5 linked regions of the Homo sapiens genome follow. The protein of the gene in region 1 purifies or fractionates together with the protein of each later gene. This does not show direct contact. Each region holds a gene or a part of one and is shown in the gene's direction. Other genes may lie near its edges. The genes, in order: GALNT8, TMEM164, ATL3, SLC9A8 and ITPRIP.

Region 1 (5,532 bases):
CCAGCATCCAGCAACTTGGAATCTATTTCCTACAATAGCTAGGATATCTGGAGATCTCTAGTCAGCCTGCCCTGTTCTCTCTACCTTTCAGAGTCTTCTTAGGTTTGTTTTACATATCATGTGTACTTTTTACTTGCCTTGATGGGAAGGAATAGAGAAGATAAATGTAGGTATTTCTTCTTGTCCCAGAAGCAGAAGGGTTATGCTTTTTTGTTTGTTTGTTTTTTGTAGTTGTTGTTGTTGTTGTTTGAGATGGAGTTTTGTTCTTGTTGCCCAGGCTGGAGTGCAGTGGCGCGATCTCGACTCACTGCAACCTCCGCCTCCTGGGTTCAAGCGATTTTCCTGCCTCTGCCTCCCAAGTCGCTCGGATTACAGGTGCCTGCCACCATGCCCAGCTAATTTTGTTATTTTTAGTAGAGATGGCGTTTCACCATGTTGGCCAGGCTGGTCTTGAACTCCTGACCTCAGGTGATCCACCTGCCTCGGCCTCCCAAAGTGCTGGGATTACAGGCGTGAGCCACTGCGCCTGGCTGGATCATGCGTTTCTTATGTTTTGAGTCTAATTTGCAAGTGGGAGGCTGGGAGACATTTTCTATCCCTGCGAAACAGAAGAAGTGATTCCTTTTCATTTTGTTCATTTTCATCCTGTTTTTCCTAAAGCCACATTACTTTCCTTTAATCCACATGTCCGCCTCAGCACATGTCACCATGTGCTGTGTTTGGGACGTAGTAAATAGTCCAAAGAGCCAGGCCGGGGTGGAAGCTGTGATTTTGACGGGATTGACAGTAGACTGAGAACTTTGAACTTTTAGCCTTGGGGAACAATTTTATGTGTTTATTCTACAATGATGATCACTGGTGATTTGTCCAAAACATATTATAAGTGTGAGGTGTGGAGGCAAAGGAGTTACTGGAAGCTGGGGCAGGGCAGAAGCCCAGTGTATGAAGTTGTGCAGAGGACAAGCAAAGGACAGAGACCAGTGAATCGGAGTCATCCCCTGAGGCTCAACCCCGGGCACCGCCTCCAGCTCTTCTCCACCTGCTTCTAGGCAGTGAAGTCCTAGGAACTAGCAAGAAAGTCTGTCCTTAAGTTTGTGGGACAAGCATTTGTTGCACACCTACTATGTCCAAAACCCTGTAGAGTTAGGTAAAAAGACATCTTAGATCCCAGCTCTCCAAAAAAGCAAGGATCTAAGTGTACAGAGACTTCTTGCTTCGTGATTTCTTCTTCATCCTATTTATCCCCTTCTTATACCCACAGGACCAGACCTCACATGCCCTATCAGAGTCTCCCAGGTGGTTTTTCCAGGGAGAGAGAACATTAAACATCAAACAAACATATATAGAGAAAAGCCTCTCACCCAGGCAGCCTGAGCTAGCTGCAGGAGCAAGCATTCTTCTGACTTCTGAGACAGTACAAGGTGTGTCCAGGTGACTTACCTGTCACTGGGCAGCTGCCATGCGCACTCCTCACACCTGACGCTGCTCAGGGAGAAGCCAGGCAGCTATAATAGTGTTCTTGGCCGGAGAACATCTGGCCTAGCAGGCAGGGTGTCATCTATGAAGCTGGGTGGAGAGAAAGCTGTTGGGGAAACCAGCCCCACACCACCCAGCGGATACCCCGAGTCCGGCGGAGACAAAGGAGTTAGAAAGAGACAGAACAAGCGTTTAAAAGGCAGGTCCAGGGGACCAGAGCGTTGGAGGCTTGCTCACGGCCCAGAGCTCTGGGCTCCACCCAATTTATTGGTTTACAAGCTCTTTGTTCTTAGGGCAGATGGGAAGGGGAGGAAGGGATGAGGAAAAGGATTAATCAGTGAGTCATTCGATAAGATGTGTAACAGTGGCGGTTTCTGTGAATTTCCTTGAGCAAAGGCGTGTGTCTAAACTACTTAAGATCTTTAATGACTGAAATGGGTGGGAGTGGGTTTCAGGAGGAGCCAAGATGTTTGATTATACTCCTCTGCTTCAAGGGAGTGTTATCTCCCTGAGCAACCTGTGGAAAGCCGCTGAGCAACCTGTGGAAAGCCGCTGAGCGGTTATCCTCTCGGGGCATAAAGACAAAGAAGGCAATAAGGAGACTTTGCTCCTCAGAGGCCACCCGTGGCTTCCCATGGGTGTCTCACACAGGGGAGACCAACTCAACTGGCACCTAGAACTCTCTTTCCCACAAAAGCTAGGCTGGTTCTGATTCTTAACCTGCTCCAGCAGTGACACACTCAGTCCCACAGGGAGTGGACGACCCCCAGGAAGAAGATGATGTTTTGGAGGAAACTCCCCAAAGCCCTCTTCATTGGGCTGACTCTGGCCATTGCTGTCAATCTCCTTCTGGTATTTTCTAGCAAGGGGACTTTACAAAACCTGTTTACGGGTGGTCTCCACAGGGAGCTTCCTTTACATCTGAATAAACGCTACGGGGCAGTGATAAAGAGACTCTCCCACTTGGAGGTGGAATTGCAGGATCTGAGTAAGTTTACAATGCTAACCTGGAAGGTGTGTGTGTGGGTGTGTGTGTTTGGGGCACTTAGGAAAAAGGGATATGGAAGGAAAAATGGGTGAGAGGTCACATTTTCATCTCAGTCGCTCATTGAAGCATCTGACACTGAATTCTGTGCCTTCAAATGGGAGATGGGTATTGAGAATGAAGTGAGTAGAAGTGGAAATTAGAGCAAGCAGTATGGGGGAGGTGAGCATGTGTGTGTGTATGCGTGTGTGGGCTTGTGCACATGCATTATCATTATATCTACATATGTGCAGGCAACGAGAAGAATAAGAATCCCAAGGGCCATAGACCTGTCCTTAGGCCTATTGAAGGGGTGGGTTGCACCTCCACACCTGTGGGTGTTTCTCGTTAGGTGGAACGAGAGACTTTGGAAGAGAAAAAGACACAGAAACAAAGTATGTAGAGAGAAATAAGGGGGCCCAGGGGACCAGCGTTCAGCATACGGAGGATCCCGCCAGCCTCTGAGTTCCCTTAGTATTTATTGATCATTCTTGGGTGTTTCTCGGAGAGGGGGATGTGTCAGGGTCATAGGATAATAGTGGAGAGAAGGTCAGCAGATAAACACGTGAACAAAGGTCTCTGCATCATAGACAAGGTAAAGAATTAAGTGCTGTGCTTTAGATATGCATACACATAAACATCTCAATGCCTTAAACAGCAGTATTGCTGCCCGCATGTCCCACCTCCAGCCCTAAGGCGGTTTTCTCCTATCTCAGTAGATGGAATATACAATCGGGTTTTACACCGAGACATTCCATTGCCCAGGGACGGGCAGGAGACAGATGCCTTCCTCTTGTCTCAACTGCAGAAAGGCGTTCCTTCCTCTTTTACTAATCCTCCTCAGCACAGACCCTTTACGGGTGTCGGGCTGGGGGACAGTCAGGTCTTTCCCTTCCCACGAGGCCATATTTCAGATGGTCACATGGGGAGAAACCTTGGACAATACCTGGCTTTCCTAGGCAGAGGTCCCTGTGGCCTTCCGCAGTGTTTTGTGTCCCTGGGTACTTGAGATTAGGGAGTGGTGATGACTCTTAACGAGCATGCTGCCTTCAAGCATCTGTTTAACAAAGCACATCTTGCATAGCCCTTAATCCATTTAACCCTGAGTCGACACAGCACATGTTTCAGGGAGCACGGGGTTGGGGGTACGGTTACAGATTAACAGCATCTCAAGGCAGAAGAATTTTTCTTAGTACAGAACAAAATGGAGTCTCCTATGTCTAGTTCTTTCTACACAGACACAGTAACAATCTGATCTCTCTTTCCTTTCCCCACGCCTATGTGTGGTAGGGGCTGTTGAAGAGAGGTGGCAATCTCTGGGGCAAGGGCCTCGCTTCCATTTTGCGGTGTGCTCCTTTCATGAACTAATGAGGGCTTTGTTAGAGGACCTAAGATCGAATCCTGATGTGCCATTGTGGTTGTGTGACTTTGAGCAAGTGCTTCTCTCTCTCAGCCTCAGGTTCCTGGTCTGTAAATGGAGATGATGATAACAATAGTGATAGTTATCAACCTGACCTAATAGGGTTGTGAAGTAGATGCAGAAGGTGATCTATAAACTGCTCTGTGCCAAATTTTAACCTCCTCATTTAAACTTAAGGGTAAGATTTCAACACATTCTGGGGTTTGTTTGTGATTCCGGCTCACCATGGAAGTCTAATGCCTCTGAATTTTATGTGCCTGTGCATCCAACTTCAGCAAGGGAAGCAGCAATTTCCCCCTGCTCCCAGGTAACAGGGATCAAATGCTGGAACCCCATAGGGAGGTGTTTTATGTGTGGGCAGGGATGTGACTGCCCAGGTGTGTGCACATGGGGCTGGAGTTGGGGAAAGTGTCTTTTAAAATGAGAACTGAGCATTGTCAGGGTTCAGGGTGAGGCTGGGAGATGGGTGGAAGGAAAGGCAGGAAGAGAAAAAGGAAGGGAGAGAAGAAATCAGGGAAAGAGCGAGGAGAGTGAGAAGGGAGATGAGAGAGGAGAAAAGAGCTGGGACAGGAAAGGAGCAGAGAAGTGAGGGAGTCCAGGGAGAGAGAGTGAAAGAGTTTGTATGGAGACAAGAAGAAAAGAAGGGAAAGTGTGATGGGAGAGAAGGAGAGAATAAAAGGAGAGAGGAGGAGTCCTAAGGCACCCATAGCACCTTCCACGTCCTCCTTCATAAGACTCATCATATTTTATTATGGTACAGTTTTATGGAAAGCAAGTTTCATAAGTGCTGTTTCCATGAACGTCTCATTCACTACTCATTTCTATTCATACATCGAAATTCCATAGATGAATAAATGAGTGGGTGTGTCTAGGAAAGAGAGAGAAAAAGACAGGCAGACAGGGATGAAGGGAAGAGTGATACGGGGCAAGAGAGTGGATGAAACAGAGGGAAGATCATCAGCTCCACAAGCCCTGGCTTACCTGGGTGGGTCGGACATTGCCCATGCAAATATGCTTGGTGCAGCTTCACCAGGAGGATGCCTGTGTACCTAGGGTGGTGACCCCAGCACCACCCTCACTATTTGGCAGAGCACCCAGACCACACCAGGACTGTCTCACCCATCCCCAAGGCTCATCACACTGGCTCAGCCTCCTCAAGCCGTAAAATGGCAGGAGTTCTACCCAAAGCCCTGCTATTCTTTCCATCAGCTAGGACACAATGTGCCATGAGGAGCCAGCCAGAGCCATCTGGTTTACTCCTCTTTCCTTTTTTGCAAAGATCTTTCTTGTTATTCTTGGTGCTCCCACATTTTATTCGCTCTGAAATGTTGTGATGTCAGAGACTCACTACCACCTGAGTTGAACCTCAAAAAGTCTTCTGGGCCCTGTTTCTAGATCACCAATGCTTTTTTTTTTTTTTTTTTTCCACAGAGCTTCCTATAACTAAAAGCCTGTTTAATTACCCTTCATCCTGTTTGCTCATTGCCTCCAGGATTCCAGGAAGATTTAAAAAAATCAGAAGTCGGCCGGGCGCGGTGGCTCACGCCTGTAATCCTAGCACTTTGGAAGGCCGAGGCGGGTGGATCACGAGGTCAGGAGATCGAGACCATCC
Region 2 (4,758 bases), on another chromosome or scaffold:
TGATGCATGGCATATAAAACTGGACACTAACTCTTACCAGAGGTCCAGCCTACACCAAGCAGAGAGGAAGTATTTTTTTCCCAGTCTTTTCATGCCTTGCACCTGTTAATACAACTCAGCTTGCTTTTAAATAACAGTATGTTGCTGGCCCCTACTCAGTGGATGATCCACAAGCTCACAGAATTTTTATTCCTTTGCCACAGATGGGCCACCTTCTTCTCAGTCTTTGTGAGACTTGTTTTTAGTTTCCTCCCCCTCTGTAAATACTCCCCTGAAGATTCTCCTCTACGAAACCTTTCCATAGGAGCCTGACCTGACTCCAGTAACACTTTTTGTCCTTTCCCAGCCGTCTGAATACATGTCAGAATGTTGGGCTCTTTAATGAATACCTTTGTATGCATGTAGGTAATCTGGTGTTTGGCCAGATCATTTTTTTTTGTTTGTTTGTTTTTTGTTTTTTGTTTTTGCATGTTTCTTTAATGTTTCTCCACCATTAGTGGGAACACTTTTTTAAAGTAAAGGAGTAGTGGATTTTTCCTTTGTAACTCCTTGCAGAGCTGAATATAATACTGTATATGCACATTAATTGTTTAATGTGTACCTGGATAATGGTGACTGAATGATTGATGGAACTGACTTTTTGCTTTCCTTTTTTCTTTCTCCACTGGTGGCCCTATGTTCCTATTAAGAGAATCTTCCAGCCAGGCATGGTGGCACACGCCTGTAATCCCAGACTTTGGGAGGCTGAGGCAGGCAGATCACGAGGTCAGGAGATTGAGACCATCTTGGCTAACACGGTGAAACCCTCTCTCTACTAAAAATACAAAAAATTAGCCAGGTGTGGTGGCACGCGCCTGTAGTCCCAGCTACTCGGGAGGCTGAGGCAGGAGAATCGCTTGAACCGAGGAGGCAGAGGTTGCAGTGAGCCGAGATCCCGCCACTGCACTCCAGCCTGGGTGACAGAGCAAGACTCTGTCTCAAAAAAAAAAAAAAAATCTTTCTGCCTGTTTTTTGAAATAGCCACAGGAGTGAGGCAATCTCAGCTCCTGCTCACACATCTTTTTGTAGAATTTCCATCACAAAGAATGGTTATTAGAATCTCTACTCTTGGCCCAAAGTGTCTGTTTGCTTTTCTCCCAATCAGGAAATCACACTGTTGGATCTTGATCTTAATCTCTTGGACATGCCAACTTTCTTGCTTCTTAATATCATATAAATAAAAAATGTTATTAAGCCAGAGACTTACTTTTCCTTTTTCTCCCCTCTTCTCTTTTTCAGTGGATACCTCATTGTTATGCCTCATTGAAATGAAGAGCTAGGTTTCTCTGCTTCTCCTGGTCTTTCATATATTTTGTTAAATTGAGAATGTCTTGTCTCACGTGCTCCTCTCCTGCCAGGAACTGGCTGAGTGAATGCGAAGAGACTCTGGATGTGGAAAGCGGTGATTGTCAAACTTTATTTGTAAAAGAGTCTCTTGGAAGCTTGTTATAATGCGGATACCTTGTTCTCTACATGGTGATTCTGAGCAGGTCTAGGGTGAGGATTGGAATCTGCATTTATACTCGCTCTTGGGTGATTCTAATGCTGGTCAGCCTTGGACCCCACTTTTAGAGACATTATCTAGTGGCTGAAGTAATTAGGTGGGAAGTTGGTTTCAGTGCCCATCCTAATTGAGCATGAGTCTGGGTGATCTGTGGGCAAGGCATTAAGTGTTCTGGCACCATCTCAATACCTGTTAAATAGTGTGATTCAGATTAGAGGATGAGGGCCCCAAGTTATTGTGAAGAGGGTTTTAAGGTAGCTGTAGAGTTCCACTGGCTTGTTTGGTGACTGTTAGTTATGTCAATGGAGTATTTCAACCAGGCCACCTTTATTACCTTCCAGTGATATATGGAATATATCCCTCCAGTCCTTCTATATCCCCCCGCTTTCCAGTCTCTAAGATCTGCAGGGACTAACAAGAGGGAATGTTGACACATGGTTTGTTGTATGCTAACTCTCTGTTTGCAGGACTGTTGTTTTAGATGTTCGTGGGAGTTTATTCTTTCTTGCGTTCACTCAACAGATATTTATCGAATGCCTATTGTGTGCCAAACATTGGTGCCAGGTATTGGAGATTCAAAGAGAAATAAGAAGCAGTCATTGTTGATGTACTTTCAAAAACAAAACCAAAAACAAAAAAAAAAGAAGAAGTAGCCTTTGCCTTCATTTTGTTCACAGTTTTGATGAGATGGACAAGGAAATAGATCAACTAAATTACAACATTACATGTATAGTAACAGATTTGAACAAAGCATAGGGGACAGGGGTCTTTTTTTTTCCTAATGCAATTAAGGAAAGCTTCCTAGAAGAGGTGGCATTTGAGCTGGCTCATGTTAGCTCCATGAAAGCAAGGACCCTTGGTTTTTGTTCTCTTAGTGCCTAGAACAGGGACTGGCTCTAGTAGGTGCTCAATAAATGTATTTGAATGCGTAGGAATTCATTGGGTGATGGAGGAAGGAAAGCAATTCTAGGCATAAGAAACAATAAGTGCAAAGGCTATGTGCTATCTCCCCATTTCTCCTATTTAATATCTATTCACTTACCCAGGGTTCAAGTAGACAGGAAGAGGATGGATGTGGAGAGCAGTGATTATCAAACTTTATTTGTGAAAGAATCCCTTGGAAGCTTGTTATAATGTAGATGTCTAGCTCTCTTCATAGCAATTCTGAGCAGGTCTAGGATGAGGATGGGAATCTGCATTTATAAGAAACTCCCAGATGATTCTAATGCCTGTGAGCCTTTGACCTCACTTTGAGAGATCCTACCATAAGTTCGCAGAGTTGCTTCCTCCTTCACAGAAAAGTGTCTCAACTGTAACCTGGAATTATTTGCTTATTATTATCAGGGGTAGATGTCTTACTTCTCCCTTGGCCAACTAAGTGAAACTCTAGGAATGCTCTGTCATTTCTAGGCTGTTGATAAACGACCTGCAGATGCCCTTGAATCCTCGATAGGGGATGAGATAGAAAATTGTGTTCTCTGTGCTGTCCCAAGGAGGGCCCACACTGTCAACAACAGAGGCACACAACATTGGGGTAAGTGAACAGACATTAAATGTGAGAAATAAGGAGATAGCAGGCATCCCACCTGCAACCAGTAGATGCTTTTTAGTGGCTTGTGGATGGTTGCTGCTCTAAAGTCCACAGCAGCACTAATGAAGTGTGGTGCCATCTTTCTACCTTTCTTTTTCATATCTCTTCTTCCCTGTTTCCAAGTCTGTCCACCTGATCCACCCCACACAAGTTCCAAAACAATCCTTTCTATAATTCAAAATGCCCATCTCATCAGAGGAGATGATAGCCATGGGGGATTAGGAAGAAAGCAGTTTTATTTCAGAGGTTCATACTGAAATGTGAGTGGACAGACTCCACTGGGCGTCAGGGAGAGGATGAGTTTTAAAAAAGGGCCTTGTTACCCTAACATTATATCTAATTGGTAGACTGTGTCTAGTGTTTTTAAGCAGATGTCCTTTCTCATGTGCCTTGCTCAGGTTTTGGCCTCTTCTCTCCCGCTAAAGCCCCTGATCAGGAGAACTGGAGTTATCCATGCCTTGCCACCCTACATGCTGACCCCCAGGGTTTCATATTAATGTAAATCTCCCTCCACAGTGCTTGGATGCAGCAGTTAATCTGAAGGCCTGGCGAGGACCCCTCTTCTGGGCACCAGTCAGTCCTCTGTGTTTACTCAGCTCTTTCCTGGCTACACAGGGCAGCGCTTGCACATCTGTCAGTTCATGGGCATCAAGGCACTTGGACCTGTTACCAGCATGAGATCCTGAAGGGAAGGGTTTGGGGGATCTCTTGATTGGTTTTGGTTCCCGTCTAGTAGCTGCTGGAGGAAATGGCAGAGGGAGGAAGGATAATATGAGTTTTATTCTGAGCTGGGTGGTGTTGAGGGAAGGGAATGGATTGCAGGAGCCAGGAGGTCAGACAGGATTGGCCTGTTTGGCGAAAACAGTGCAAGCTCTGCCCTGTGGCCATGTGTTTAGGTGGGTAGGAGAGGGAGGAGTGAGATCATCTGGAGGGGAAAGGAAGCATGGTACCATCCTAATTCTAGCCCAGTGCCTTCAGTCTCCTCATGTCCATCACATGCCAGTATTGGTATAAAGTCAGGGTGTATTTTGCCTGTGAATTGAATTGTCTTTGCCAATCGACCAGCTGTGTTTGCAGAAAGACTCTGACTGACTGTGTTCTGGCTGTTGCTAGCAAAGAGACATTTCATTCAGGTGCTGATTAAATAAGGTGCAGAGCCAGATTGCACATTAAGGCCCTTAACTATGGCTCTGGGAGTCCTGGGTAAACACTTATTAGATGTTCTGGGCAGAGCACAAAAAGGCTGGTAGTCAGGTGTTCTCTTCAGAAATCAGGTTGAAGGAAAATGGGGTAAAGAGAGACTTCTATAAAGAGTTTTGATCTTCTTTTCTTAACATTAATCAGATCTGAGTGGCTGGTGTGTACACATCAGGGCCAGATAAGTTTCCTCATTGGCATTTACTTGCCAAATTCTTGCTGGGACATTGTAGGCTTGGACTGGGATACAGCGGGGATCCTGACTTAAGTAGGGCAGTAGGAATGCTTCATTTTCCTAATGCAAGTTCAGCTTGGTGGATAGAGCCTTTGGACCATATTTCCTGGGTTTGGGTTTGAGCTCCATCACCATGTAACCTTAGGCATGTTACTTAGCTGCATCTGTAAAATGGGAATAATAATAGGGTTG
Region 3 (4,758 bases), on another chromosome or scaffold:
TTTTTTTTTTGAGACGGAGTGTCACTCTTTTGCCCAGGCTGGAGTGCAGTGGTGCAATCTCAGCTCACCACAACCTCCACCTACTGGGTTCAAGCGATTCTCCTGCCTCAGCCTCCTAAGTAGCTGGGATTACAAGCACGTGCCACCACACCGGGCTAATTTTGTATTTTTAGTAGAGATGGGGTTTCTCCATGTTGGTCAGGCTGGTCTGGAACTCACAACCTCAGGTGATCTGCCCGCCTCGGCCTCCCAAAGTGCTGGGATTGCGCAGGTGAGCCAGCACGCCCGGCCCCTTGCCTTCTCTTCTCTTCTCTTCTCTTTAAGACAGTCTCTCGCTATATTGGCCAAGTTGGTCTTGAACTCCTGGCCTCAAGCAATCCTGCCATCTCAGCTTCTCTAAGTGCTAGGATTACAGGCGTGGATGCTGTGCCTGGCCTGAATTTCAAATTAATTAGTTATCTTTGTGCTTTGGTAGGGAAACTCTGGTAAGGAAAGTATAATATAGTTAGTGCTTAATTTTGAACTATAGAATTAATAGCTTCTAAAACTTTTTGAGTTATTACTAGTGATATGCAAAATACAACCACCTAAAGATCTTTTTGAGCTTATATCTAGGACCTGTTGGGCAATATGCTGAACCTTCATAAGCCTTCATTTCCTTCTTTTTTTTTTTTTTTGAGACCAAGTCTCACTCTGCCACCCAGGCTGGAGTGCAGTGGCGCGATCACGGCTCACTGCAGCTTCTGCCTCCCGGTTCAAGCAATTCTTCTCCCTCAGCCTCTTCAGTAGCTGGGACCACAGGCGTGCGACACCACGCATGGCTAATTTTTTTTTTTTTCTGTATTTTTATAGAGACGGGGCTTTACCATGTTGGCCAGGCTGGTTTTGAACTCCTGACCTCAAGTGATCAGCTTGCCTTGGCCTCCCAAAGTGCTGAGATTGTAAATGTGAGCCACTGAGCCTGGCCATTTCCTTCTTCTTAAAATGGAGCAGTATTATTTACATCAAAGAGTTGTTCTGAGGATTAAATAATATATATATATGTGTATATATATATCTAAATAAAGCTTAGCAGTGGCAAACACTATTATTGATAGACATTGTTTTATTTCCACTTTTGGACTGTTTTGAGTAAAGCTGATAATGAACTTTCTGTTTTTGAGATAGAGTCTTGCAATATTGTCCAGGTTGGTCTTGAACTCCTGGGCCCAAGTAATCCTCCTGCCTCAGCTCTCCAAGTAGCTGGGACTATATGTGCGAGCCACCATGCCCAGCTCAACATTCTTGTATATATGTTTTTTGGTGGACATAGGCATTCATTTCTCTTAGGTGTATACCTAGGAGTAGAATTGCTGGATCACAGATATATTTAATTTTTGTAGATACAGCCAAACAGTTTTTTGAAGTGGCTTTAGTATTTTGTGCTCCTATCAGAATGTGTGAGAATTGCGGTTGCTTCATACCCTGTCCCACAGTTGATATTGTCAGTCTTTAAATTTTAGCCATTCTGATGGGCAGGTAGTGGTATCTTATTGTGGTTTTAATTTAGATTTCCCTGTTAAGTAATGATATGGAAGTACCTTTTAATAGGATTTGTATATCTTTTTCTTACAAAGTGCCTGTTATTTTTTTCTTATGGATTGCTATGTTGATGCTGGATGTGGGTCCTTTGGAAACAGATATTGTGAATACTCTTCCCTAGCCCATGGCTTGCATTTTTACTTATTGAAGTCTTTAAGTGAACAAAGTTTTTAATTTTAATGAAGTCTGTGTTGTCATTTTATTTTCTTTTATGGATAGTACTTTTTTTCTTTGAGACAGGGTCTTTTTTTTTTTAACAACATTTTATTTTATTTATTTTTTATTATTATTATACTTTAAGTTTTAGGGTACATGTGCACAATGTGCAGGTTAGTTACATATGTATACATGTTCCATGCTGGTGTGCTGCACCCATTAACTTGAGACAGGGTCTTATCTGTCACCCAGGTGGGAGTGCAATGGCATGATCTCGGCTCACTGCAACCTCTGCCTCCCAGTTTCAAGTTATTCTCGTGCCTCAGCCTCCCGAGTAGCTAGGACTTACAGGTGCGTGCCACCACACCCAGCTAATTTTTGTATTTGTTGGTAGAGATGGGGTTTCGTCATGTTGGCCAGGCTGGTCTTGAACTCCTGACCTCAAGTGATCCACCCACCTCGGCTTCCCAAAGTGCTGGGATTACAGGGGCGAACCACTGTGCCCTGCCCTTTTATGGTTAGTATTTTTGTGTCCGTTTTTTGTTTTGTTTAGTTTTGTCACCCAGGTTGGAGTACAGTGGTGTGGTCATAGCTCACTGTAACCTCAAACCCCTGGGCTCAAGCAGTCTTCCTGCCTCAGCCTCCCAAGTAGCTAGGACTACAGGTATACACCACTACATATGGCTAATTTTTTAAATTTCATAGCGCTGGGTTTCACCGTTTCCCAGGCTAGTCTGAAACTCCTGGCCTCAAGTAATCTTTCTGCTTTGGTTTCCCAAAGTGCTGTGATTATAGGCATGAGCCATTGAGCCTGGCCCTGTCCCCTGTTTAAGAAGTTTTTGTTTTCCCTATATTCAAAAACATATTTTAAATATTTGACACTGATTTTTTTTCTCTGCATGAACATAGATGATGCCATGGAGAGCAGCAAGCCTGGTCCAGTGCAGGTTGTTTTGGTTCAGAAAGATCAACATTCCTTTGAGCTAGATGAGAAAGCCTTGGCCAGCATCCTCTTGCAGGACCACATCCGAGATCTTGATGTGGTGGTGGTTTCAGTGGCTGGTGCCTTCCGAAAGGGCAAGTCCTTCATTCTGGATTTTATGCTACGATACTTATATTCTCAGGTAAGATAGAATTATTTTATTTCAAGTAAAAAGTGAGACTTTAATGTCCAAAAAAGCGAAATAAGCTCATAGATTATCCTTGATGCATAAAATTTTTAATTTAAGATTTAATAGAAATTTCTTACTTCTGTAGAAGGAAAGTGGCCATTCAAATTGGTTGGGTGACCCAGAAGAACCGTTAACAGGATTTTCCTGGAGAGGGGGATCTGATCCAGAAACCACTGGGATTCAAATCTGGAGTGAAGTTTTCACTGTGGAGAAGCCAGGTGGGAAGAAGGTAAGGATGAAAATGACCTTACAGATTAACAACAACAACAACAAAATATGAACTTCAGCATGTACTGTGTTAACCCAATTAAAAACCTTTTATCAAAGAATTTAAAATGGGTAAAGTAAGAAAAGTTAAAAAGTCCCTGTTTTGTCCTGAAATTTTAGTCTGTTGTGGATAAATAGGATTTTCTGACACAGGTATGCGAAGTTGTAGCTCTGATGTCTAGCTGTAGTCTCCTTGGTCTGCTGATTGCATTATTTTAATTTTCTTTTCTGGAAAAACATTTTTGCTAAAAGCTATACAGACTTTTTTGTTTGTACCTAGCAGTACTTTATGTAGTATTCCTTAGGGCTATGTAGCATTTTTAGACTCAGTTAAAAAATATTAATCTGTTGCTGACTCTGTTAATTCCTATTTCAACATGTGTTTCCTTGAATAATTCAGGATACAACTTACTGTGTATGACAGCTTTCCTTCACACACTATTTTTGTGGGTGTGTGTATATCCAACTTGGGGAGAATTTAAAAAACACATAGCTTTTTAATTTGTTTGAAACAGACCTTCTGCCTGTTACATTTTGTGCTCTTAACCAATTAAAGAAGCCAGTGGCAGCCGGGTGCTGTGGCTCACGTCTGTAATACCAACACTTTGGGAGGCCAGGGTGGGCAGATCACAAGGTCAGGAGTTTGAGACCAGCCTGGCCAACATAGTGAAACCCTGTCTCTACTAAAAATACAAAAAATTAGCTGGGTGTGGTGGTGGGTGCCTGTAATCCCAGCTACTTGGGAGGCTGAGGCAGGAGAAACGCTTGAACCCGGGAGGCAGAGGTTGCAGTGAGCCGAGATCACACCACTGTCCTCCAGCTCGGGCGACAGTACGAGACTCCGTCTCAAAAAAAAAAAAAAAAAGCCAATGGCATTTTTAGTTTCATATTGTGTTTTCCACTGGTATATACCTGTTGATTTGTTTGTGTCTTTTATGAACTGTTATTTTCTGAAATTTTTTTTCAATAAAAGGAAGGAAGATGTGAAAACAACTTTTTATCAAAGTGAATGATTTAAAATTAATACATATTGATTGTTTTTAAGATTCTTAAATAAAATGCATGAATATAGTTTAAAAGGTCAGGTACTACTGTAAGGCTTCTAACAGAAAGCAGCTGTCATGTGTGTTATTCTCCTCTCTACCCAGTTTTCACTTCCCAGAGGCTGATGCTCTTATGTGTTACCACTTCTGTTCTTTACTTCCTTACTCCTGTATGGGTGGCACAGACCTGGCTGTTGTTCTGGGAGTTGAGCAGGGAAATGGCATTGGGGATCTCACTGTTCAGAAGGTGGGCATTCACTATCCCCTAGCTATCAGTAGGGCTTCTTAGCCCCAGTCTCATCTATGCCTTGTAAGCTATGGGCATAGAGCCTCTCCACAGATTTCTTTGTAAGGATCGGGAGGGGTAAGTCATGTGTTTCTTATACAGACTTTCATCCATTACTTCTGTTTTTAGCCCAATCCTATAAGCATGCCTTCACACCTGTTTGTCCTTTTTTTTTTTTTTTTTTTGAGATGTAGTCTCACTCTGTTGCCCAGGCTGGAGTGCAGTGGCACCATCTTGGTCACTACAGTCTCCG
Region 4 (4,715 bases), on another chromosome or scaffold:
AGGCCTTTCTGGGTATCAGAATCGGTGGGGGGCTTGCTACACACAGGCTGCTGGGTCTCACACCAGCATCTCATAGGTATGGTATGGGGTCCGAAAGAATTTGTGTTTCTTCTTATTTATTTTTGAGACAGGGTCTCACTCTATTGCACAGGCTGAAGTGCAGTGGCGTGATCGTGGCCCACTGCAGCCCAGACCTCTTGGGCTCAAGCGATCCTCCCACCTCAGCCTCTGGAGTAGTTGGGACTCCAGACAGGCGTGACCCCACCCAGTTAATTTTTTCTTATTTTTAGTAGAGATGGGGTCTCACCATGTGGTCCAGGCTAAGAATTTGCGTTTCTAACAAGTTGCCAGGTGGTGCTGCTGCAGCTGATCCTGTGAACACGCTTGGCGAAGCACAGCACTAGCAGAAACAGGACAGCTCCTCTGAGGATGAACCGCTGAGTTTCTGGAATGTTTTCTGTGGCAGTCAGTGTGCTTGCGTTTTCCTTGGATGATCTCAGATTGTCCCCATAGCCTGCCAGAAACTGGCGCTTTCATTATACCCACTTTGCAGATGAGAATGCCGAGGCACCAAGAGAATCAGACAGCTGTGGGCACAGACTCCCGAGCCTGTCCTCTTTACTACCACGCTGATCAGCAGTCCTCAAAATGGGCTCCCCAGACTAGCAGCATCACTGGAAACCTGTTAGATCTGCAGATTCCCAAGCCCATTCAGACCTACTGAATTAGCACCTCTGCAGGTGGCTGCGGTGGGCTCAGTATTTTGTGGTTTCACAGGCCCCCCAGGTAGATTCTAATACAGACCAGTGTTTGACAACCACTGCTTCACAGCATCTAAATGCCCTCCCCTCCCCGGCCATCCTCTGCCCTCCCTGCACCTGCCCCGTCCCCCTCCCCACCACCTGCAGTGAAGCTGCAGAGCACACTTCACTGTGGCCCCACTGAGACTCCTCCAGCAGAGCAGGCGCTGCACTCAGAGCCTGTCTGCTTTGCTCCTACCTATGACCCGAGTCCCGCCTCTTTACCTCCGTCTCTCCCCTCCACATGGGGTCCTTTTCTTCGTCCCTCCCCAATTCCTACAGGATGTGTTCCTCTCCCCTCTCCTCTCTTGACTTGATTGGCAAAAGCCTGTCCACGGTGGAGTCCTAGCTAATAGAGCCACAGGCAAAGAGACAAAAAGCCTCCCTGTGCGATTTGCTGCTAATGAAAAGCCCAGAACAGCAGTTCTGGTCCTGGTTGCATGATAGAATCACCCAAAAGCTTGAAAAGCTTAAAGACCAAGCCCCAGCCTGGCCCAGTCCTTCTGTTTTAGCTGTCCTAGGTGGGGTCCTGGGCATCCATTGTGCCCTGATGGACGTTCCTGCCTCCCTGCAGGCTCCCAGGAGGCCGTCTGCTGCCCGTCACCCTGCATTGATGGTCAAGTGGAGTTAGGGTTGGGGACACTGGCGGCCTGGGTGGTGTGGGGGCTTCCAGGAGGTGCCCCCCGATGGTGCCAGCTGGTGGCCGTCGGGCCGCCTTTCCTCCCTGCTCAGGGCAACACTGTGGAGTCGGAGCACCTGTCGGAGCTCACGGAGGAGGAGTACGAGGCCCACTACATCAGGCGGCAGGACCTTAAGGGCTTCGTGTGGCTGGACGCCAAGTACCTGAACCCCTTCTTCACTCGGAGGCTGACGCAGGAGGTGGGATACCGGCCAGGCCACACTTTCTGGGGGTCCCTTGCCTGCCTCCTTCAGGACCTGCGGTGGCCCAGGGTGGGGTGGAGGAAGAGTGGGGAGGCAGGAAAGCTCACGTGGGCCCGCCAGGCCGCCGCCTCCCGATCTGGAGGCTGGACGTGCTTGTGGAACTCGGCATCTGCTGTTTTTCCTTCGCTGCCACATTTAGTGCGAGGTTAATAATAGATTTGTTAACACAGTTTGGTTTTCCTGGATGATAGACTCGGGGTATTGATCAGCTACTGAATCGGAGCTGAGGAATTTCAGACATACCAGGGCCTCAAGCTGTGGCCCAAGTCTGCCCCCAGCTCAGGGCTCTGGTTCTGTCCCTCGGGGCACTGCTGGCCTCTCTTTAGTTGGAGGCCTTGGGTAGGGGTGGGGCTCTTCCTGCTGCTGCCCGCTTTGTTTCCGAGCAGGCCCATTTTCCACTCTCCGGCAGGCCTGAGAGCTGCCGGTGTGTGCGCTCTTCCAGGAGCCAGGCAGCTCCAGTGACTGTGACCACGACCGCTTCCTTCTCCAGCATCCTGTGCAGTGGATGCAGCTGTGTCCCTGACAGCTGAGGAGATGGAGGCCTAAGGGGGTGCAGTAACCCCGCAAGGTCACAGCCAATATGGGCATAACTGGGAGCAGAGCTAACTGTGTCTGACTCCAGAGACCACATGTTCAGCCTCAAGCCATGCTCCCTCCTCCTTTCTGAATGACACCTCCCGTGACCTCCACCCCCACAAAGAACAATCCCAGCTCAGTTTGTTCAACTGAAACTGAAGTTGCCTGTGGCCATCACCCTGCCTCCCACCTCCTCCCTAGACACCCCACACAAAACACCCAGTAGCATCCCCTCCCTTCCATGGCCCTGCCCCTGACGCCCTGACGGCTTGGTTGTGTCTCTCGACCCAGGACCTGCACCACGGGCGCATCCAGATGAAAACTCTCACCAACAAGTGGTACGAGGAGGTACGCCAGGGCCCCTCCGGCTCCGAGGACGACGAGCAGGAGCTGCTCTGACGCCAGGTGCCAAGGCTTCAGGCAGGCAGGCCCAGGATGGGCGTTTGCTGCGCACAGACACTCAGCAGGGGCCTCGCAGAGATGCGTGCATCCAGCAGCCCCTTCAAGACATAAGAGGGCGGGGCGAGGTACTGGCTGCAGAGTCGCCTTAGTCCAGAACCTGACAGGCCTCTGGAGCCAGGCGACTTCTTGGGAAACTGTCATCTCCCGACTCCTCCCTGAGCCAGCCTCCGCTCAGTGTGGCTCCTCAGCCCACAGAGGGGAGGGAGCATGGGGCCAGGTGCCAGTCATCTGTGAAGCTAGGGCGCCTACCCCCCCACCCGGAGGACCCCTGCGGCCCCCTGCCTAGAGGAGCACCATCTACAGTTGTGCCATTCCCCAGCCACTGCCTTCATGCTGCCCCCGCCGGACTGGCAGAGCCAGGGGTCAGCCACCTGCCTTTGAGTCATCAAGATGCCTCTGCAGCCACAATTCTGACCTAAGTGGCAGGGCCCAGAAATCCTGAAAACCTCCCGCTGCCTTTTGTGATACTTCCTGTGCTCCCTCAGAGAGAAACGGAGTGACCTTTTGTCCTTTACCTGATTGGCACTTCGCAGTCTATCTCCCTGGGTAGCAGACGGCTGCTGCCCTTCTCTGGGCATGTTCTGAATGTTTACACTGGTACCTTCTGGTATCTTCTTTAGAGCCCCCTGCAAGCTGCAACTCTAGGCTTTTATCTTGCGGGGTCAGAGCGCCCTCTAGAGGGAAAAGCTAGAGGCACAGGGTTTCTGCCGGCCCACAACTGCTGTCTTGATTTGCATTTTACAGCAAAGTGCTGAGAGCCTCTAGTCGCCTCCTGCCATCTGATCTCCCTCCCCACCATTCCCGTACTCAGTTGTTCTTTTGTCTAATCGGAGGCCACTGTGCTGAGGCCCTGCAGTGTCTGCTCACTGCTGCCATCTTCGCTGCTAGTCAGGGTTCCATCCTCTTTCCCCTCTCCCAGTTCCCTACCACGTTGGATCCCATTCGTCACCCATGCTAGGGTCCCCAAAGCACTGGGGCAGGGGCCAGAGCAGCAGCACCCAGTGCTCCCTCCTCTACTCTGACCTGGGGCCCCAGCATCCTGGAGCACACGCTCCACGCACACACACCCCAGCCCTGTCCCAGGGGCCTGGCCCCCTCAGCCATCTCAGGGTGAGGAGCTGCCAGTCATGTCCAGATGGAATGACTCCCATCCTCTCCTCATCTCCCCTTTGACGAGCCTCAAACTGCTCAGCTCATCAAAGAGCCATTGCCAACTTCCGTATGTGGTTCTGGGTCCCAGGGAGCCTTGGAACCTGGCACCCTGGGGTGGTTTAATTCATCATTAAGAAGCATTCCTGCTTCTCAAGGGACACAGTGGCCTGCATGGGCCAGCATGGACCCTGGGCTGATCATGTGCATTCCTGCTTCTCTGGGGACACAGTGGGCCCACATGGGCCAGCATGGACCCTGGGCTAGAGCAAGCACATCTCCATCTCTTCCACCTCAGGCAGTGTGGCTCCAGATGTCAGGAGGGACTGACCTCAGGACCTTCCAGGTTCCTCTGTGCCAGGAATGAGAGGCCAGGCCCGATCCTACCACCTCGCCTTGACCCTGAAGTCAGAGCAGGCCAGCCAAGCAGGAAGCACACTGTTTACTTTTTGCATGAAAAGTAAATGTGTACTTGATAGAGCTAAAATATGATCTTTTTTAATTTCTCAACCCCATAATTTGAGCCATTGCCTTGCTTAATTTTGGTTTCCACCATTTCCTTTTAGTGGAGAAGAGAGGAAGTCAGAGGGTAGGGACCTTTGCCTGCCCCTGGGCGAGTGCGGGCAGGGATCTGAGACCAGATTGTTCTCGCACCCCTGCCAGAACTCACTCTCCCCTGAAGTTTAGGGTCCCATCTCCCAGATGTAAGTTGTTTTGCAAACTCAGTTTGCCAGGATTTCTTTCTTTCCTAATCTTAAATTCACAGATAAAGCAATGAAAAGAGTC
Region 5 (3,891 bases), on another chromosome or scaffold:
CCTTTCCCCCTCTTCATCCTGATCCCGTTTTGCTTTGAAGAGACCCCAGTAACCAAAAAACAGCCTCCAGAAGCCAAAACCATGCCTGGATCTCCCATAGCTTCTCCTTTGCTTCCAGGAGAAAGTTCACTGAAAAAAAAATATCTTCTGGCTTCTTGTGTGTACAGAGACAACAGAACTCGGTGGGGAAACGGGAATCTTTTCTGCACCAAAGCTGCTTCTAAAGCAGAAAGCAGTGGGGCTCTTGGTGTTTCATGCTGCCTTATTTATATTAAAGGAAGAATTAAATCTTGCAAGGAGTAGAAATGGTCACTGTTTGTTTTTAACTTCAGGAAATCTGTGAGGCTCCCAGGGCAGAGTTGGGGACAGGGGGGTGGATTTCCTATTGACAAAGCAGAAGCTTTCACTCCCTTTTTATTCTTACACTTTCAGGAGACTTTAAAAAATAACAAAACAGAACATTTCTACCCTGTCTTTGAGGCAACTTGTGTGCTGCCCGCAGGGCTCCAGAAAGGGCCTTTGAAAGCTGGCTGTAGGGTGGATTCCAGCCTAAGACCTTATTTCACAGAGCTAATGTCAGCGAGAAATATAGGAGCTGGAACTAACAGGAAGCTTTTGGGTTTTAAAGAAAGAGATTGTATTTTAAATAGAGGATTTTGAGTCCTCTAGGGGACTTTGGCCTTTCCACTAAGGACAACCCTGCCCTCTTTCCCCAGAGTCTCTTTCCCAAGGATGCTTGACTTTCCCCAGCAACTGCTCACTTGCTTTGCAAAATAACAAGGGTGAAATGAATAGAGTTGGCCCCTAGGCCAAGAGGCTGGTTATGTTGGGGAAGGGCCTTATATCCTCAAAAGCTCTAGCCCCTCTGCATGCCTGGCTGAAGCACAGCCCCCGTTGAGAACCTGGGGGTGGAGCTCTGGTTCATCATCAAGGGTGTCATCCGAATCACCCAGACAACCTGGTCCATTGCCCCGACCCCGCCTTGAACCTACATGGTGCTCAGAATCCAGTCTGGAGTGGTCAGGCTAGGCTCGATTTTTAAAGATTTCCCCCAAGTGACTGATGGTACCCCTAGCTGAGGAAGCCCTCTCACTTTCTTTCTTAATGGAAAGTTAAAGAAAACCCAAGTGGACTACTTTCCCTACAGATCTATTGGAAGATAGATAGACCTGGGAAAAGCCAATGAGCCTGCTTGGAATCTGTGGTCTAAGTGGCATCAGCTACACCACAAGCTTCTCATGAGGGCACCCACATTCACGCTAGTGCCGTAAGCCTCAGAGAGAGGGTGGGAAGGCATAAGATGGTGAGCCCTTCTCCCAAGCAGGTCATGAATAGTCCACAAGCATTTGTCAGGAGCCTAACGTGCATGAGACATTGTGGAAGATGGGAAAATGAATAGGACCAAGCCTGTTCCCTAGGAGAGGCAGCAGAAGGTGGCCTTCCAAGTACTGAGCTATTCCAAGTGTGACCCTGCACTACACATACGGGTGTCACCTGGGGGCAGCTTCCTGGGCCGTGTCACAGACTCCAGTGGGATCCTGAGAAGTTAGGTAGAAGAATCTGCACTTCACCAAGTTCCCCACCTGATTCTGGATGTCCAAGAACCACTGGTACCTGGGCTGATTAGGGAAGGCCTCATGGTGGGGCGCTGCCAGATAGAGACTCTGAAAAATGACCAGGACTGTGGCCAGGAAAGACATTCCAGCCAGAAGCATGGAGTGAGGGTGGGAAGCACCTACTGTATGGCAGGCACCGTTCCGCACACACATTTGTTAATGCACACAGTTCCATGTCAGTCCTATGATGTAGGTGCTATTCTTATCCTCCCTGCTTTCCAGATAAGGAAACAGGCACTGAAGGGGCAACTGACTTACCTACTGTCACAGTGGTAAGTAGCACAGCCCAGATTCCAACCCAGGCAGTCCTGGTGTACATGTTGGCATATACTGAGAAGTCGTAGCAAATGAGGTTGAAAAGATAAGAGTGGGGCTGAACCATGCAAAGCCTTGAATGCTAATACAAGGTAAATTTGGACCTCACAACAAGCAGAGGTGGGCCATTGGCGGGTTTTGAGTGAGACAGTAACTTGATTCACCCCCAAACTAAGGAGTCCTTATCTATGTGATCAGTGCCATCCATGTCCTGTGCTGTAGGGTACATGGCCGGCTTCCCGAGCAGGGTTGGTGGCAGCTGGCAGTGGTTGGTGAATGTCCAGGAAGTCTTAACTCAAGCCACCCCAAGGCTGTGATTCAGAACATTTTCGTGGTCCGTCTCATCTCCACCTCACGGGACAGAGCTGGAAGGCTGTTTGGTTTGGCCAGCGACCGAAAGCAGAGGGAGCCAAGAGTCACAGAGTGAAGGGCAATGTGTGCCTTCAACAGGGCCCTCCCTCTCCGCCCCACTCTGCCTTGCCCCACCCCTGTCCCTGGGAAGGGCATCTTTTAGAGTTAACTTTTCTCATTGCCATCCAAAAATAGCTTGCTTGTTTAACTAGTTTGTTGTTTAAAAAATAAACATAAAAGCAATAATACAGTCATAATTTTAAAATTCAAGTACTAACAGGAAAATTAAGTAACAGACTAACGGTCCCACTTCTGACTTCTTAGTCCACTCCCCAGAGATAACCAATATGAAGTTTTTGGTGTATCCTTCCAAAATTTTTCTGTGTATGTGTCACATGTATGTATATATATATGCATCCTTTTAGTCCTTTTTTACATAAATGGCATCATACCGACTAATTCTTCTTGGTTATCTTTTTGAACATTTGGCTCTACCTTATTCTTTAAACTAGCTGCTTACTGGCCGAGTACATTAGCTCACACCTATAATCCCAGCACTTTGGGAGGCCAAGGCAGGAAAATCGCTTGAGCCCAGGAGTTTGAGACCAGCCTGGGCAACATGGCAAACCTTGTCTCTACAAAAAATATATAAATTAGCCAGACATGGTGGCGTGTACCTCTAATCCCAGCTACTCCGGAGGCTGGGGTGGGAGGATTGCTTGTGCCTGGGAGGCAGAGGCTGCAGCGAGCCGTGATCACTCCACTGCACTCCAGCCTGGGTGACAGAGTGAGTAAGACCCTGTCTCAAAAAAAAAAAAAAAAAATATATATATATATATATATATATATGGCTGCTTACTATCTCACTGTCTGTATGCATGTACCATAATTTACCCAACTTTCCCTACTGAGGAACACTTAAGTTGTCTCCACTTTTTGCTGTTATAAACAACACTCTAGTGAACGTCTCTGTGCACAAATCCTGTTTTGAAATGATCCTTCCTCTCCCAGTAATCTCCATATTCTGTACTTGCTGTATGTGGATTCACCACCAGCATCTTATTATAAAAATAACCATTGCCTGGGATTTAGTCAATCATCGTTGAATAAATTTTGAATCAACAGTGAGGAAAAGGTGTTTGACCAAGTACTGAGCAAGAGCATGTGATCTGCCTAGGTCCGGCTCTATGTGGGGAACAAAAGTATAAGATGGGGGCTCTGTCCCCAAGGAACTGGGTCTAATAGGAAGACTACCAATGGCTGCAAAGTAAGTCAGAGATCAATGAAGTGTGGTAAGTAATTGAAAGTGAAATTGTGTGGCTCTGAAGCCCGCATGAGCGGAATGTGAAAACAGATCAGCTTTGAGTTTCAGCTGTAACCTCTTTTGCTCCCTTACAGATGGGAAACTGTGAAGAGCCTCCCCAAAGAAAATCAAATCCACGTAATTGTTCTGTCTCTCAAATGCTTGTACTCACTCCATTCATCTGAGCCCGGGTCTGGTTTATTTCCTCCTGCACAATGTGGGGCCCTCCTTTACAGGTAAAAATGGCATTTTCCACCCTTTGATGTTTCTCCACAGCCCCACAAAGAAACCAGAAAATAAAACTGT

Evidence for each region.
Region 2: the proteins of GALNT8 (region 1) and TMEM164 purify together in Homo sapiens (affinity purification with mass spectrometry; one large-scale study listed by BioGRID and IntAct). This does not show direct contact.
Region 3: the proteins of GALNT8 (region 1) and ATL3 purify together in Homo sapiens (affinity purification with mass spectrometry; one large-scale study listed by BioGRID and IntAct). This does not show direct contact.
Region 4: the proteins of GALNT8 (region 1) and SLC9A8 purify together in Homo sapiens (affinity purification with mass spectrometry; one large-scale study listed by BioGRID and IntAct). This does not show direct contact.
Region 5: the proteins of GALNT8 (region 1) and ITPRIP purify together in Homo sapiens (affinity purification with mass spectrometry; one large-scale study listed by BioGRID and IntAct). This does not show direct contact.

The regions. Positions count from the first base shown.
Region 1 is NC_000012.12:4,718,425-4,723,956, forward strand, and holds the start of GALNT8 (probable polypeptide N-acetylgalactosaminyltransferase 8), read left to right. Parts: upstream 1-1,975; 5' UTR 1,976-2,253; coding exon 2,254-2,464; intron 2,465-5,532. UniProt on the Homo sapiens protein: Probably catalyzes the initial reaction in O-linked oligosaccharide biosynthesis, the transfer of an N-acetyl-D-galactosamine residue to a serine or threonine residue on the protein receptor.
Region 2 is NC_000023.11:110,009,014-110,013,771, forward strand, and holds part of TMEM164 (transmembrane protein 164), read left to right. Parts: intron 1-4,758.
Region 3 is NC_000011.10:63,657,141-63,661,898, reverse strand, and holds part of ATL3 (atlastin-3), read left to right. Parts: intron 1-2,646; coding exon 2,647-2,861; intron 2,862-2,936; exon of another isoform or gene 2,937-2,994; coding exon 2,995-3,138; intron 3,139-4,758. UniProt on the Homo sapiens protein: Atlastin-3 (ATL3) is a membrane-anchored GTPase that mediates the GTP-dependent fusion of endoplasmic reticulum (ER) membranes, maintaining the continuous ER network. It facilitates the formation of three-way junctions where ER tubules intersect.
Region 4 is NC_000020.11:49,885,220-49,889,934, forward strand, and holds part of SLC9A8 (sodium/hydrogen exchanger 8), read left to right. Parts: intron 1-344; coding exon of another isoform or gene 345-404; exon of another isoform or gene 405-1,346; intron 1,347-1,374; coding exon of another isoform or gene 1,375-1,431; exon of another isoform or gene 1,432-1,526; intron 1,527-1,532; coding exon 1,533-1,679; intron 1,680-2,609; coding exon 2,610-2,717; 3' UTR 2,718-4,715. UniProt on the Homo sapiens protein: Na(+)/H(+) antiporter. Mediates the electoneutral exchange of intracellular H(+) ions for extracellular Na(+) in 1:1 stoichiometry. Acts as an Na(+)/H(+) exchanger in the trans-Golgi.
Region 5 is NC_000010.11:104,308,546-104,312,436, reverse strand, and holds the end of ITPRIP (inositol 1,4,5-trisphosphate receptor-interacting protein precursor), read left to right. Parts: 3' UTR 1-2,737; downstream 2,738-3,891. UniProt on the Homo sapiens protein: Enhances Ca(2+)-mediated inhibition of inositol 1,4,5-triphosphate receptor (ITPR) Ca(2+) release.